Linked DNA regions of Homo sapiens. The protein of the gene in region 1 interacts with the protein of each later gene in a pairwise test. Each region holds a gene or a part of one and is shown on either strand. Other genes may lie near its edges.

Region 1 (3,821 bases):
GTCTTTCTGTGTCTGGCTTACTTCACTTAACATAATGATCTCCAGTTCCATCCATGTTGGTGCACTATTCATATTTTTAATTACTAGTGAACTTGAACATGTTTTTTATGTTTGTTAGTCATTAATATCTTTTCTACTCTAAGGTACCTTTTCATTTATTTTGCCTAGTGTTGAATTAGGGTTTTAGCATGGTTGAGATCAATTTGTAAGCTTTTTATTTATTAAGGATATCATTCTGCAGCTGTCATATTCATTGCAAATATTTCCCCTAATTTTTCCTTTTAATTTTTGGCAAATGATGTATTTGGAAGGACAAAATCATCTTTACATAATACTAATAACTATCATGTACTGAATACTTACCATTTGCTGGGCATTGAACAAAACTTTGTACATGGATTACCTCATCATTTAATCTTTGCCATATTCTTAGTGGAATGCAGCATTTCCTCATATTATAAGATTATATAGTTAGTGTCTTATTCCATTTTGTGTTGCTACAGCAGAATGCCACAGACTAGATAATTTATAAAGAAAAGAAATTTGTTTGGCTTATTGTTCTGGAGGTTGGGAAGCCCAAGAGAATGGCACCAATATCTGGCAAGGGCCTTCCTGCTGTGTCATCCCGTGGTGGAAGGTAGAAGGACAAGAGACTATAAGAGTGAGCCAGAAGCAAGAGGGGACCAGACTCACTTTTATCAGGAATCTACTCCCTCAATAATAGCATTAATCTATTTATGAAGGCAAAACTGTCAGGGCCTAATTACCTCTTAACAGTCCCACTTCACAATGGCAATTAAATTTCAACATGAGTTTTGGAGGGGACATTCAAAGTCAGTAAGTGAATGAGCTGGGATGTGAATGGATGAACAAAGTCGTGTTATGATTTAGAATTTTGAAATACGCTTGCCTTGCTGTAAGAAGAGCTTTTAAGCTAGCCAATGCTATTATGTTCTTTACGTTTTGAGTAGGCAATGCAGTCATTAAAAAAGTTTCAAAAGAAACCAACCAGGTGCGGTTTAACCAGCTGGACGTCTGTAACCCAAGCACTTTGGGAGGCCAACGTGGATGGATCACTTGAGGCCAGGAGTTTGAGACTGGCCTGGCCAACATGGCGAAACCCTGTCTCTACTAAAAATACAAAAATTAGGCAGGCATGGTGGTGTGCACCTGTAACCCTAGATACAGGCTGAGGCACAAGAATTGCTTGAACCCGGGAGGTGGAGGTTGCAGTGAGCGGAAATTGCCCCAGCGTGGGTGACAGAGCGAGACTGTATCTAAAAAAAAAAAAAACCTGACCAAACAAACAACAAAAAAAAAAACCTTATGTATGCTCTCACATTTTTTGTATGCGGATAAAAGTAAATGAATATATATCTTCTCTCCCTCTCTGCTTATTTTACACAAAGAGTTAAGACCAGTCAGTTTAGGTTATTTGCTTTTGCAAGACTTGGCTACTTCTTTAGTGTGAAGTATCTTACAAAGTGCACCTCTGATTGAATTAATTATCTCTCATCTTGGAGGGATTCACCATGCAGAGAGTTCAATTTGTTTAGATGGTAATTTCATATTGAAATTGATTTTGGGCCAAAGTCCAGCACTGCCAAGTCTTATGTAACCAGCAGAAGCTGAGCTTTCAACCAGCTGCCATATGTTATGAGGAACAAAGCCAGAGGACCAGTGCAGATGGTTCTCAAGAAATAAGTTATCACTCTCAAAGTCTCTAGAAAGACATATTATCAAAAGGTTATCATGTGTGGCATACTTCTTAAGAAAACACCGCATTTCCCTTCCTAGAGTGATTAGTAAAATATATACCAAAATAGTTCATTTAAGGTGTTCTCTGGAATGGTTTGGCTTTGTGTTCCTTGAGGGTAAAGCTCAGGAGGACTCTAGAGACTGATGGAGGACAAGGGCTGGAGAAGTGTTTGTGTTATCACTAAGGAAGACTTATAGAGAGGACCTGTGCCCATCTTGAAGCCACTCATCTAGAGCTTACTGATTTCGTTTTGTCTTTATTTCTCACCCCTTCCAGGTACTGGCGGAGGACATTGGGCATGCAAGTCCGCTATGTTCACCATGAAGACTATCAGTTCTGTTATTCCTTCCGGGGCAGGCCTGGGCACAAACCCTCCATCCTCATGCTCCACGGATTCTCTGCCCACAAGGATATGTGGCTCAGTGTGGTCAAGGTGCAATTCTCGATTCTTCTCTCTTATAAGAAAAGGGAGTTGGGTGCTGTGGCTCATGCCTATAATCCCAGCACTTTGGGAGCCTGAGGCAGGAGGATTGCTTGAGTCCAGGAGTTCAAAACCAGCCTGGACAACATAAAGAAACCCTGTCTCTACAAAAAATTAAAAAATTAGCCAGGTGTGGTGGTGCATGCCTGTAGTCCTGGCTACTCAGGAGACTGAGGTGGGAAGATTGCTTGAGCCTGGGGGGTCAAGTCTTCAGTGAGCAATGATCATGCCACTGCACTTAGCCTGGGCAACAGAATAAGACTCTGTCTCAAAAAAAATAAAAATAAAAAAAGGAAGAAGAAGAAAAGGGTTTCCACTAGGACATGATGTCATCAACAATGGTAGAAAGCAAAGGGAACTCAGAACTGTGGTGGTTCAAGTCATATTAGAACTAATGCAGTGTGGCCTGGCACAGTGGCTCATACCTGTAATCCCAGCACTTTGGGGAGGCCAAGGCAGGCAGATCACTTGAGCCCAGGAGTTTGAGACCAGCCTGGGCAACATAGGGAGACTCCGTCTCTACAAAAAAATTAGCCAGGCATGGTGGCATGCACCTGTAGTCCCAGCTACTTTGGAGGCTGAGATGGGAGAATCACCTGAGCCTGGGAAGTCAAGGCTGCAGTGAACCAAGATCGTGCTATACCACACTCCAGCCTGAGCAACAGGAGTGAGACCCTGTCTCAAAACAAACAAACAAACTAATGCAATATGTTACTCATTCTTTTGTCAGAAAAAAATTATTGAGTTGAATATTATATATAAAACGTATGGCTTAGAAATCTTTTTACCTCATGGATATTTCTTTGGGGAGGCTTCTGACACAGCTGCATCTCAGAACTGCTGTGAGATCAGAGTTGGGCTTTGAAAAGTCATTTTTTTTGTACTCCCAAGTTTCTTCTCTTCCTTCCCCTCCATATTCTTCCTTCATTCCTTCTTTTCCTTTCCTTCCCACTCCCTCTTCTACGTCTGCTTTTTTCTTTTCCTTTGCCATTTAGAGAAACAGTCTTGATCTAGCAGCTTTCTGGAAGAGTTTTCCAAGTCACTTTTTGTCTTGGTTTACTTGGGTGTGGCAACTTGCTGCTCTTGGTAAGAGTGATCAGGTGTGAAGGTTGGGGCTGGCAGAAGTCTTGGGCAGGAAGCATCCCTGGCTCCCACATCAGGCAACACCATACCTGAGGGATCCCAAGTATCATCTACACCAGTAGGTGAAGACTCACACACCCTCTAGTTAGTTGTATTCTTATTTCCAAATTCCACTATGAGGACAGTCATTTTCATGCCTTGATGAACTTCCTGTCCCCTCCTCAGATAAATATCTTTCTTATAACTGGATGTTTGTTTGTTGGTAACTTATGTTTCTCAGTTTCCTGGTTAAAAGTGGTACATATCTAAATGGAAGAAGGTGTTTTAGGATAATAATAATTTGGAAAAGTAGACCTTAATGTAAAAAGAAACCAAACAAACCAGAATCGGGGTGATCAGATGTGGTTCTTGGGGAAAACATTGCTCCTGTTGGCTCTGGAGCTGGCTAGGATATGAGAGAACAGAACCATCCCTTCCAGATCCAAGTCAGCAGCTGCA
Region 2 (3,821 bases), on another chromosome or scaffold:
CACACAATTTCTAGTTGCCCAGCAGAGGGCCGTGGTTAAGAGTGTGGACTATGACTGCTGGCCAGAATCCCAGCGCTGCCACTCACAAACCATGTGGTCCTGGGTGAGTTATTTTGCCTTTCTCTCCCTGCATCTGCTCACTTGTAAAATGGGAATAACACGAGCACACAGCGTTTTTTTCCTCAGACTAAGGACTCTGGAAAAGCTGCCACATAGTAGGTAAATAGTCATCAGATGAATAAGTAGACAAATACATATCTCTACCCCCTCCTCACCCCCTCTTTCCCCTCCCTCCAATGCTGCCCACCATGGCTTCTCCCTACCTGAAACATATCAGTGTCATTCACCCACTTGCCCTTGACTCACATGACCCGCTGACCGCCTGGAAGCCTGTAGTGAGTGGTGTTCCTGCGAAGGAAGGCCCCAAGAGCCATCCCCTGGTTCTGCTTCCCCTCAGTGCTGCCTGGAGTGACACCTGTGTGCTGTGGGCATTTTGGCCCCATACTTAGCCTCCCCTCGGCATCAGCCTATGGAAACCCTGCTTAAGGGAAAACACTCAGCATACCTGAGAGACCAGGGAGGATCTGAGGCAGCTGGAACTCTCTGGCAGCTCCATTCCTTGGGAGACAAAGGGTTAATGACAATGGCCCAGAGGAATGGGGGCACACGGCATCCACAGTCCTCCATTGATGCACATGGGTGTGCAGGGGTCTATTCATCGTTTCCACTCAAATCCTTTGCAGTGTGTGACCTGGTCCTAGTCCCAGGGCAGATGGAGGCATGCAATACAGTACTTTGGTATGGTTAAGACCCCATCTAGACATGCTGTAATATTTGTATGGTAAACTATTGTGAGTGAAAGGATCTTTATTTAAATGAGTGCCTGGTGCAGAACAGACACTCGATACATATGATTTCCCTTTAGCTGTGTGACCTTGGGCTGTTAGTTAATGTCTCTGTTTTTGAGTTCCCTCCTCTGTGACATGGGATACCTACTTCTTGGGATTGTTTTGAAAAAAGTACCCTGCCCTTGAAAGCACTCGAATTTTGTTTTCTCTCCTTATTCAGATATTAAAAATGTTATAATAATTACAGTTATCCAACAGTAAAATGGGTTGCTGTGGCAAGTGGTGGGATCCCCAGGACTGCTGGTATTTAAGGAGGGCTGAGGGAAAGGGATGCCTGAATTTCAGCTGAGGTAAATGACCTCTAAAGCCTCTCAGGTTCCTGACATTCATTCACTTACTCATCAGACATTTAATGATAACCTATCATGTGTGGGCCAGCGTGCTTAAGAACCAAGACAAACTGTGGCCCAGTTCTACATTCATTGGGTCTTGTCCCTCTGAAGTAAAGGATGGACCCAGTGATTGTCCCTTGTCCCTTTGATGCGTGGAATTCCCAGTGATTGTCCACCCGACTGGAGCCTTGCCAAGCTTCTTACACTGTGCCTTCCAGCACGTGGAGGGAGGAAACCAATTCCTGCTCCTCGTGAATTCCAGAATGTAAGTTACCCCACAAGCCCATGCAAAAAGGGGAAGAGCTTCCTCCTTTTTCTTAGAGCATTTCCTTTAGAAAACTTATATTTTGCTGCCCCTTTGAAATGTATATAAATCTTTTTAAAAGCTAAGTAAGGCTCCAGTCGATTTTACAACCTAGGACTCTTTTCCTGCAAGGGCCTGGAAACCATCTCTTTGAAAATACAGACATCAAGGAAGATAGCTCCCTACCTCCCACTGTCAGTGGGAGGGCAGTGGGTAGTAGTTTCATTTAAGCACCTGGCTCCAAGTTGTAAAACTACCTGCTGTCCTAGAAACTTGAGTTTTATTTTTCCTTTTGATAAAGGCAATTAGCGAACACAAATGGTCACCAGGTGAATTTAGGATGAATTATGCTTGACAAATGGTGCTGTCAAGTCCTCTTACTTTAGTTCGAGAACATGTATGTAATGAATGGGTCCTATTTGCTTGCCCACATAAAAGGGTGGGATGTCTGTCTTTGCAATCTCCTTAGCAGAATGCTAAAGATGTGCATCACTAGTTTAATGTTTATTCAATAATAAAATATTTTCTTTTTCCTATATTTTATGGAGAGGAATTTCTGGGGTGGGAGGAAATTTAAATTGTTTCCCCAACACCTAGCACTTGCTCCTCATCTGATTCTTCCTTTCCAATCTGCCTGCTCAGTCAGAACCCCTAAAAAAAAAAAAAAGGAAACAGAAGGACATGCACATTTAGGCCTTGTACTCTGCTGGCTTTCGTCTGTTATCTGTGGGGTAGTCTCTGCTGTGTCACATACGGACATCTCTGACGATGGGCACGATGAGCTCCCAGGGTTCAGACAGCCTGTCATGGTCAAACGGTCAGGAGCCTGCACTGGGCCACCCTAATTTGCAGATACCAGGAAACGGAGCAGGTACATGCTCAAAACCAGAACTGAGTGTCTCACTTGGTGGCTTTTATTGATAGGATTTCAAAATCCATGTCTGAAAGAAATGTGTGTCACATCATATAAGTAGATTTCATTCAAAAGTTTGTGGGCTTTTTTTTTGTGAGACAAAGGTTTGTTCATTTCTTGCATTTGAAGTACTCTTTGATGACATCCTTGGGCTGAGACTCCTTGCCATAGTCCTTAACTACTACACAACTGCAACCAACCACTTTACAGGGTTTCCCCTCTCTGTCAATTTTACAGAGGTCGCCTACTCATTCCCCTAGTTTCTTGTCATCAACCTTAATTAGGTTGATTTGGTGTTCAGCACAAAGGGCCTTGACCAACCTGACATACATAGGCTCATCAGAATTGGATGCAGGCACACAAAGATGGGGTTGGTTCTGGTTGCCCAGCATGCCAAAAAAGCCAAACATTGACGCTGAGATTTGTAGTGAGAAAAAGGCGTTTATTGCTGGGTGCCAAGCAAGAAGAATGGGTACCTAGCACTTAACACCTGAGCTCCCTGCTGGCTTATAAGCAAGGGTTTTTAAAGCAGGAGTGAGGGGGTATCCAAAATGAGTTAAGAGCTAGGGAATTTCTGGAACTTCCATATCTATTTTTTGGTTTCAGTCTGTCTGAGTTCTATGACAGTGGTCAGCATTTTCCATCTGGTGTGGGAATTGTTTTCTGAAAAGCAATGCAAGGGAATAGGTCAAGATGCTATCTTTAGTTTCTACAGGGAATCAAACATTTTGTGACTCTGACTTACTTGAGTGGCTTTTAAATTATTATCTTCTTGTTTAGCAGGTTATTCGTTAACTTCCCTAATTGCTGGCTGTAGGACTAGCTAGGTACCTGGAACTTCCCTTAAAGGGACTGAGAATGTTGCCTTGATTTCTATGCTTGGCACATGTGGGTAAGGGGAGGAGCCCAGCAGGGCCATAAGAGAGGTCCCTTGGGAAGACAATACAAACATTAGGAGTGAACAGAATAGAGATATGTGGCACTGAGTTTACCCGCAGATGCCAAAAAGGCACAGAGCACAAGGGCAGATGAATGAGCAGCCCATGAGTACACTGCGAACTGAGAGAGAATGCAGTCATCTTGAGCTAGAAGGGAACAGATTTTGTGGGGATTGAGGCACCAGGCTGTGGTCCAATTAGGCAGAGAAAGATGGACAACAGAGTCCAAACGGTAGGGGGTGATAAGAAGCAAGAAACAGTAATAACTGTTTCTAAAACAAATTAGATTTGTTGCATTAGCACAAAATAGAAACAGCAAACCAATATTTTAAAAAGTCATATACAGTATATAATATTAGAATAGAGATACAAATGTAGGATATACATGTGTGTTTTTCAAATTGAGATCATGCAAAGCTCTAGTGC

What was found.
Region 2: the proteins of ABHD6 (region 1) and CKMT2 interact in a two-hybrid assay, tested with the Homo sapiens proteins (one large-scale study listed by BioGRID and IntAct).

What each region holds. Positions count from the first base shown.
Region 1 is NC_000003.12:58,265,154-58,268,974, forward strand, and holds part of ABHD6 (monoacylglycerol lipase ABHD6), read left to right. Parts: intron 1-2,035; coding exon 2,036-2,192; intron 2,193-3,821. UniProt on the Homo sapiens protein: Lipase that preferentially hydrolysis medium-chain saturated monoacylglycerols including 2-arachidonoylglycerol. Through 2-arachidonoylglycerol degradation may regulate endocannabinoid signaling pathways.
Region 2 is NC_000005.10:81,239,763-81,243,583, forward strand, and holds part of CKMT2 (creatine kinase S-type, mitochondrial precursor), read left to right. Parts: intron 1-3,821. UniProt on the Homo sapiens protein: Reversibly catalyzes the transfer of phosphate between ATP and various phosphogens (e.g. creatine phosphate).